Linked DNA regions of Homo sapiens. The protein of the gene in region 2 interacts with the protein of the main gene of each other region in a pairwise test. Each region holds a gene or a part of one and is shown on either strand. Other genes may lie near its edges.

Region 1 (3,912 bases), about 96 Mb from region 2:
CAGGAGCAGGCCAGGCACAGGAGGAATACTTCCTTCCCACTCTACTTCCCCAAGGCCACGCTTGCCATGCACTTTCATCGTTGTAGACTTCTGTATACACAGCAGGATCTACTTTGTTCAAGATCCTTAGCAGGTGAGTAGTGAGTTAAAATAAGGACCTGTCTTAACCTAGCTGGGAATTAAAGTGCAGATGGGCACACTACTTCCTGTCACCCCATCCCTCACAAAGGCTGACAGATAAAGGGAGTGAGACATCCGGAGCAGCCTAGGACCAAACTGGGCAGATGGGCACAAGGCTCCTGCAGTGAGGAGGCTCCCATATCCCAACCCCCTTCAGAAGCCAACACCAGGCCCCAGCCTGCTTCCCTTCCAGATGCTGCAGGAACTTTCAGCCATGGTTGGGAAGTTAGAGCAGATGGAGGTCCATTTATCCTTTTCCTACTTTGGGCCAGCACCAGCCCCTTATTTCACTGCAGATGCTGCTGTGCACATTTACGGGAGGGCAGATAAGAGGAGGCAGAAATGACCCTTCTAGGAAGAGAGTGGGTTTTCTTTTTCTTTTAAATTAAAATTAAAATTCAACTTTTTATTTTTATTTTTTTTGCATCTCGTTGGTGAAAAAGAAACCAAGTTTTCTACAGCAGCAAGGAAAGATGGGGGCCCTGGACCAAGGAGACATCTGAACCAGGCCCAATATGGACTCCTGCTCAGTTGCTCCAAGATGCTGGGGACACTCCATAGCCAGCTTCTCCAGATGGCCCCATGGTCTTGGGGCACTTTCAGATTCTCTTACTGAAGTCCATCTTAGCTTATGAAGGGGTAATATAGGTGTGAATCCTTAGAAACCATCCCGCTCTTCCTGAATCTGAGATTGTCAGTCCCCCTTTTACTCCCATGGATGTGGAATAACAATCTCCCTGTGGTCCCATGTCTCGGTCCCTCTGCACTCACCCCCTCCTGCCATCTCACTGTTGCCATCTGCAGGGCCTGCTCCAGCCCAGCTGTAGCAGGAAGGCTGGGGGAGGAGGACATGGACAAACCTGTCATTGTCATCCACACCAAGTGGACCCTAGCTCTGAGGTGAGCTGAGGTGCCACACTGAGAGCAGCTCCAAAGGTTCCCTACCCAGGCCTCTCAATGTCTCCAGCTCATGGGCCTGGAGTGGGGATGGGGCAACACATCAGAAACTTTGGAATCTAAGTGTGTGGGATGGGTAGGGGTGTGGTGTGTATGCGGGGGTCCCTCCCTACCCCATCTAAGAACTTTTATTCTTGCTCACTTCAGAAGATAACGCTAATTAATCCAGATTCTAATCCACCCAGTTCTTCAAGGAAAGACAAAGAAAATAGGCTCCTCGTAGAGTCTTTTTTTTTTTTTTTTTTTTTTTGAGACAGCGTTTGGCTCTGTTGCTGAGGCTGGAGTGCAGTGGTACAATCATAGCTCATTGCGACTTCAAACTCCTGGGCTCAAGTGATCACTCCTATCTCAGCCTCTCAAAGTGCTGGAATTATACGAGAATGCCACCATGCCTGACTATTTTTTTTTTTTTTGGTAGAGACAAGGTCTCACTTTGTTGCCCAGGCTGGTCTTGAACTCCTGGCTTCAAGCGATCCTCCTGCCTCAGCCTCCAAAAGTGCTGGGATTACAGGCATAAGCCACCATGCCCAGCCAGAGTTTTTTTTTTTTTGAGTTGGAGTCTCGCTCTGTCACCCAGGCTGGAGAGCAGTGGCACGATCTTGGCTCATTGCAGCCTCCACTTCTCGGGCTCAAATGATTCTCTTGCCTCAGCTTCCAAGTAGCTGGGACTACAGGTGCCTGCCACCATGCCCAGCTAATTTTTTGTATTTTTAGTAGAGACGGGGTTTCACTGTGTTGGCCAGACTGGTCTCAAACTCCTGACCTCAGGTGATCCGCCCGTCTTGACCTCCCAAAGTGCTAGGATTACAGGCATGAGCCACTGAGCTCGGCCCCCTCTCCGAGTTTTTAACCAACTGGTGAACCATGGCCATGGCGAAGGCCACAGGGGTTAGTGGTGTGGGCTCTAGGGTCAGATGACCAGGGACAAGTTACCTAATCCCTCTAAGCTACAAGTTCCCTACCTACAAAATGGAGATGATTATGGATCCTACCTCATGGGCCTACCGAAGAGCCCCCCAAATGCTTCCCCACTACCATTACTATTATCCAGAAAATAAGACAACTCTCTTCAGTTCACCTCTGGACCCTGGCTCTGCAACCCTTTGTAGGTATCAAACCAGAATGCAACAACTTCAAGAATGAGAACTGAGGCCACAGGAAAGGAATAGAAGAGGTGAAGAAAAATGTTACCCTAGTCTCTTTCTCCTCCTCCTACTGTCCCAGTCCCGGCCCTAGGGGGAGGAGCAGCCCCTAGCAGGAGGAACCCAAAGCTCCAGGCTGGCTTCCCAACCTCCATGTAGGAACAACCTTCAAGATAACAGTTTTGGGGAAAGGGGAGGCAGTGCAAGGCACTTTGGCATGACTTAAACAGCACTCTCATGAGCAACCAAAGGTGCAGGGTTCCCCTGAAGGGCTCAAGTCAAAGTTCTCCATGTGCACACACTATCAAGAACCAACCCCCTTCAGTCTCCCAGGACACAGGCATGGTGAGACCTACCAGCAGAACTCTATATCACTATGGTCTGTAGGGTTGGCTTGGCACAGGGAAGGTGATGCTAAGCTTCGTGTCCTTCTGGGAGATATCACAGTCAGGGAACACTGGGGGTCCCAAAAAGCAAAGGCCAGATCTCCTCCTGCCTTGGTATTAATATTTCTCTGAGTACCTAGGACAGAGGCCAGCATTCAGCAGGAATTTGATACACATTGCTGAATTACTTAGGTAAACCCAGCACCTTCAAAAAGTTTGGTGTGCCACACTGTGCCTAAAAAACTTTTATCTAAAAACAAAACTTTAACTCTTGGACCTGGAGGTTCTTCATAAGTCCTGACTCACAATAAATTAACATGGCACATCTCTGGCTCTTAGATTCCATGTCCCACCGACTCTCATCCTTCATTCTACCCAATGTCCTCAAAAAGAACCCTCTTTGCCCAGGGCAGGTTCAGAATGACAGGTGAGGAGCAAAGAGGAGAGACAGTTCTGCCCAGGCCTAGTTACATTTTGTCCCCATTTACAGCAGATAATTAGCACATTTGGGTCTTGTTACACCAAATCTCCAAATCATGCATCAGACAGCAAGTGCCCACCCCCACCCCCCAAGGGGATTATGCCAAGGTTACAGGAAGATAAGCAACACAAAATGCCTTCAAGAGCCTTCCTACTTAATTTGAGACCCTCTTGGCAGCTGAACAAATTCCTGCCCAGTAGGGGGATGGAGGAGAGGCTTGAAACTGAGCTTTCTACTATGGGTATCCTTGAAACCCCAAATGCAGGGGACAAAAGGCATAAAGAGGAGACCCTTGTAAATGTCTCCTACTGAGCTGGGCTCGGCAGGACTGCTTGGGAGAGATGGCAAGCAACGACCCTGTTCCATCTCTCCTCTCCCAAGCCTGAGCTCGGGAGCCAATTCTGTTTCTATTTAGCAATACTGCCCTGATCACCTCCCCAGGGCTACTCGGTTTCCTTGAGGCTTCTGTAGAAAGGAACTAGACCAAGAAGAAACCGAGGACATGATCCAAAGGAAAACAGTATTCTAGGAAGCAGCAGCCACTTCTGACAGGGAGGTAGAGAGGAAGTTCCAAGTTTCCCAGCAGGCAAAGGTGGCCCTGGGCTCACAGTCAAGAGCTGCCCTACTCAGGTCCTACCTGCACGATGTCCAACACCATGCCAGCAGCCACGGTCCCAAAGCCTGCCAGGAGGAATGGAAACAGTACTTGCAGCCCGATGGAAAAGGAGGTCTCCTTGAGCGGGGAAGGTGGCGCAGGGCCACGGTC
Region 2 (3,912 bases):
GCTGGAGCCATTGGCCTCTCTCCAAATAATGGGCACCTCTCTGTTTTCAGGAGGTTTATTCCAGACAAATGAGAATTGTCTCCATGTTTAAAGATATCTGGGAAAGAAGACAGTAAAACCTCCCTCCAATGCCTAAATACCCTCCTCTCCTGAATTAAATGATGAAGACTGCAGTAGAGCCCTGTCTGCCCGCCTTCTTCACAGAGGTAGAGAAGAGTCACTCGAAGCCTCTGCATCATTACCCTTTACTTACTCAAAGTGGCCTCACCATTGTAATAGTGGAACTTCTCTAACTCTTCCTCATAGGAATTCGCTAATCTTTTGTCAGTTCTGTGGCCATCTGATTCCTCTTAGAAGTTTCTTTATTCCTCTTAGCTTCTGGTGCCCAGAACTGGATGTGATTAGGGTGTCACATTCTGGGAAGGGCAGCACAGTTGGAAATATTTTTACCCGTTGGCAGTTAGTCAGTGAATGGCTCCTTATAGGTTCCTTAAGAAAGCAGGGGCCGGGCATGGTGGCTCACAGCTGTAATCCCAGCAGTTTGGGAGGCCAAGCAGGAGAATGGCTTGAGCCCAGGAATTTGAGACTAGCAACATATAGGCAACATAGCAAGACCCTCCCCTACAGAAACTACAAACAAAAAATTAGCTGGGCATGGTGGTGCCTGCTAATAGTCCCAGTTACTCAGGAGGCTGATGGGGAGGAATCACTTGAGCCCAGGAGTTCAAGGCTGCAGTGAGCTATGATCATGCCACTGCACTCCAGGCTGGGCAACAGAACAAGACCCCCATCTCAAAAAAAAAAAAAAAAAAAAAAAGTAAAGAAAAAGAAAGTAGGTACTCAAAACTTGGGGGCAGTGAACGGTCAGTTATGGAGCCTTCTCTTCACCAGCACTCTCCTGAAAGGCACTCCTGAGCATCTACAGAAAGATAAAATTTAAGAGCATGTACTATGCCTAGCATGTACAGTGCCTACTATGCATGGTTCCAGGCACTATTATCTAGTAGTGAACAAAAGAGAAAAAAGGCCAAGCATGGTGGTTCATGCCTGTAATCCCAGCACTCTGGGAGGCTGAGGTGGGAGGATCACTTGAGCCCAGGAGTTTGAGACTAGCCAACTTTTTATTTAGCCAAGAAAAATTAGCCAGGTGTGGTGATGCACATCTGTGGTCCCAGCTACTCTGGGGGCTGATGTGGGAAGATCTCTTGAGCCCAGGAGGTCAAAGCTACATGATCACACCACTGGACACCAGCCTGGGTGACAGAGCGAGACCCTATCTCAAAAAAAGAAAAAGAATAACAAAATCTCTGTCCTCATGGGGCTCATACTCTAGAGCTGCACTATCCAAAACAGTAGCCCCTAGCCAAGCTTGATTATTTAAGTTTAAGTTAATCAGAATTAAATTAAATAAAAAATTCAAGCCGGGTGCAGTGTCTCAGACCTGTAATCCCAACACTTTGGGAAGCAAGGTGGGAGGATCACTTGAGGCCAGGAGTTCAAGACCAGCCTGGGTATCATAGCAAGACTCCATCTCTACCAAAAAAAAAAAGTAGTCGGGCATGGTGGTACATGCCTGTAGTCCCAGCTGCTGAAGTGTGTGGATCACTTGAGCCCAGGGGTTCAAGGCTGCAATGAGCTATGATCACGCCACTGCACTCCAGCCTGGATGACAGAGTGAGACTGGATCAAACAACAACAAAAAAGTTCAGGCCGGGTGTGGTGGCTCATGCCTGTAATCCCAGCACTTTAGGAGGCCAAGGCGGGCAAATCACTTGAGGTCAGGGGTTCGAGACCAGCCTGGCCAACATGGCAAAATGCCGTCTCTACTAAAAAAAAAAAAATTCAGTTCAGTCACGCTAGGCACATTTCAAGTGCCCAATAGCCTCATGTGACTAGCAGGTACTATCTTAGAGAGCACCGATTCTAAAACTTTTCCATTATTACCAAAAGTTCTGCTGTGTCTAAACGACGGTCCTGAGGTTCTGACAATCCTGAATCATGCTTTCGGATTCCTCAGAGGGCAAAATACACCCACAATAACTTTAGTATTTATTGTATTCTGATTCTTTTCAAGTCAGGGATCTTACACGATGATTTTTTATTTACCAAAATATATGTTTAAATCTGAACACTATACAGTCGGATGGTACCAGAGCAAAATGAGAACATCTGAGGGGAATCACAGGTTCACAGAACAGCAGAACAAAAGGGACCTCAAAGATTCTCACACCCAATCATCTCATGTCACAGAGGGGGACTGTGAAGCCCCAAAAGATTAAGTCACTTTCCCAAAGTCACATTTAGTTAATGTGAGAGCCAGGCTTAGAATTCACATCTCCTGATTCCCTGTCCAGTGCTCTTTCCATTTCATTTGCTCATTAACTCAACACTGATTGAGCATCTACCTTGTGCCAGGTGCTGGAGATATGAAGACGAATAACACCTATCTCCTGCTCTTGAGAATTCACATCAAGAAAGGAGCGTCATAGCAAAACAAACAAACAAAAAATAATAAAAACAAACACTGCATCCCAGAGTTATTGAGGCTAAAGAAGAGATCTCTACCATGTGCATTGAGGATTACAAGGAGGGAAGGAGTAGCTCTGTGCCTTGGGGTGCAGAAGCTCAGAAAGACACTTTCTCCCAACCCCCTCCATGTCTCCTAACCCTCCATCTTTCCACTCCAGATTTGCTTTCTTCCCTAACTTTGCCAAGTGACTGAGACACAGAGAAGAGAAGGAAAGAACTAAAATCACCCCTGTCACCAAGCACAAGGCTCTGAGATGAGCAAACTGGTTATAAAGAGCAGCCAAGGAGAGGTAGAGGACCTGAGACAAGGGGGAGTTCTAGCATTCTGGTGCCAACCAGCCTTTCTCCTCTTGGACCTCCATTGCTGGGACAGCGACGGTCATTTTCTGCCCTCCGCCTCCTCTTGCTTCTGCATCTCTTTTGCAACCTTAAACCTTTCCAGTTTAAGGATGAGGCTCCCCTTTGGCACTGACATGCTCGCTGGTGATAATCCTGTGACAGTCCTGAGGACACTAACATCACCAGTTAGCTCAGAGCACAAGGAAGACAAATTCTCTCCCCAGGTCCTACTCCCACGCTTATCTCATTGTTTTTTGTTTTGTTTAGGCGAGGTAACAGGCTCATGCCTGTAATCTCAGCACTTTTGGAGGCTGAGGTGGGAATATCACCTGAGCCCAGGAACTCAAAGCCAGCTGGGGCAGCATAGCAAGACCCGATTTTTACAAAAATTTTTTACAACTTAGCTAGGCATGGTGGCATGTGCCTTTGGTCCCAGATACTTGAAAGGCTGAGGTGGGAGGATTGCCTGAGCTTGGAAATTTAGGCTGCAGTGAGATGTGTTCGTACCACTGCACTCCAGCCTCAGCGATAGAGCCAGTCTCTATCTTAGAGCCTGTCTGAAAAAAAAAAAAGATTTGATATTTACTCACTCAAGGTTCCAGAGCTAGAAAGCAAGAAAGCAGAGGGGACTCAATTTAAACCGAAGCCTATCTGACCTCAAAAATCTGTCTCTATCTTCCTTTTTCTTTTGTTTTATTTTCCTTTTTTTTTTTTTTTTTTTTTTTTTGAGACAAGGTCTAGTTCTGTCACTCAGGCTGGAGTGCGCAGCTCATTGCAGCCTCGACCTCCTGGGCTCAATGATCCTCCAGCCTCAGCCTCCCAAGGAGCTGGGACCACAAGCATGTGTCATCACACCCAACTAATTTTATTTTTTAATAGAGACGCGACCTCCCCTTATTGCCCAGGCTTGTGTCAAACTCCTGGGCTCAAGCAATCCTCCCACCTCAGCCTCCCAAAGTGTGTCTTTTTCTTAAAAAGAAAATTTTTTTTAAGATACTTCTTTTCTTTTCTTTTTTATCTTGAACTCCTATGATTTGATGTCCT

Evidence for each region.
Region 1: the proteins of SYPL2 (region 2) and SLC41A1 interact in binary tests that used the Homo sapiens proteins (3 or more experiments, as listed by UniProt).

Annotation. Positions count from the first base shown.
Region 1 is NC_000001.11:205,806,287-205,810,198, forward strand, and holds part of SLC41A1 (solute carrier family 41 member 1), read right to left. Parts: coding exon 3,784-3,912; intron 1-3,783. UniProt on the Homo sapiens protein: Na(+)/Mg(2+) ion exchanger that acts as a predominant Mg(2+) efflux system at the plasma membrane.
Region 2 is NC_000001.11:109,469,511-109,473,422, reverse strand, and holds part of SYPL2 (synaptophysin-like protein 2), read right to left. Parts: intron 1-3,912.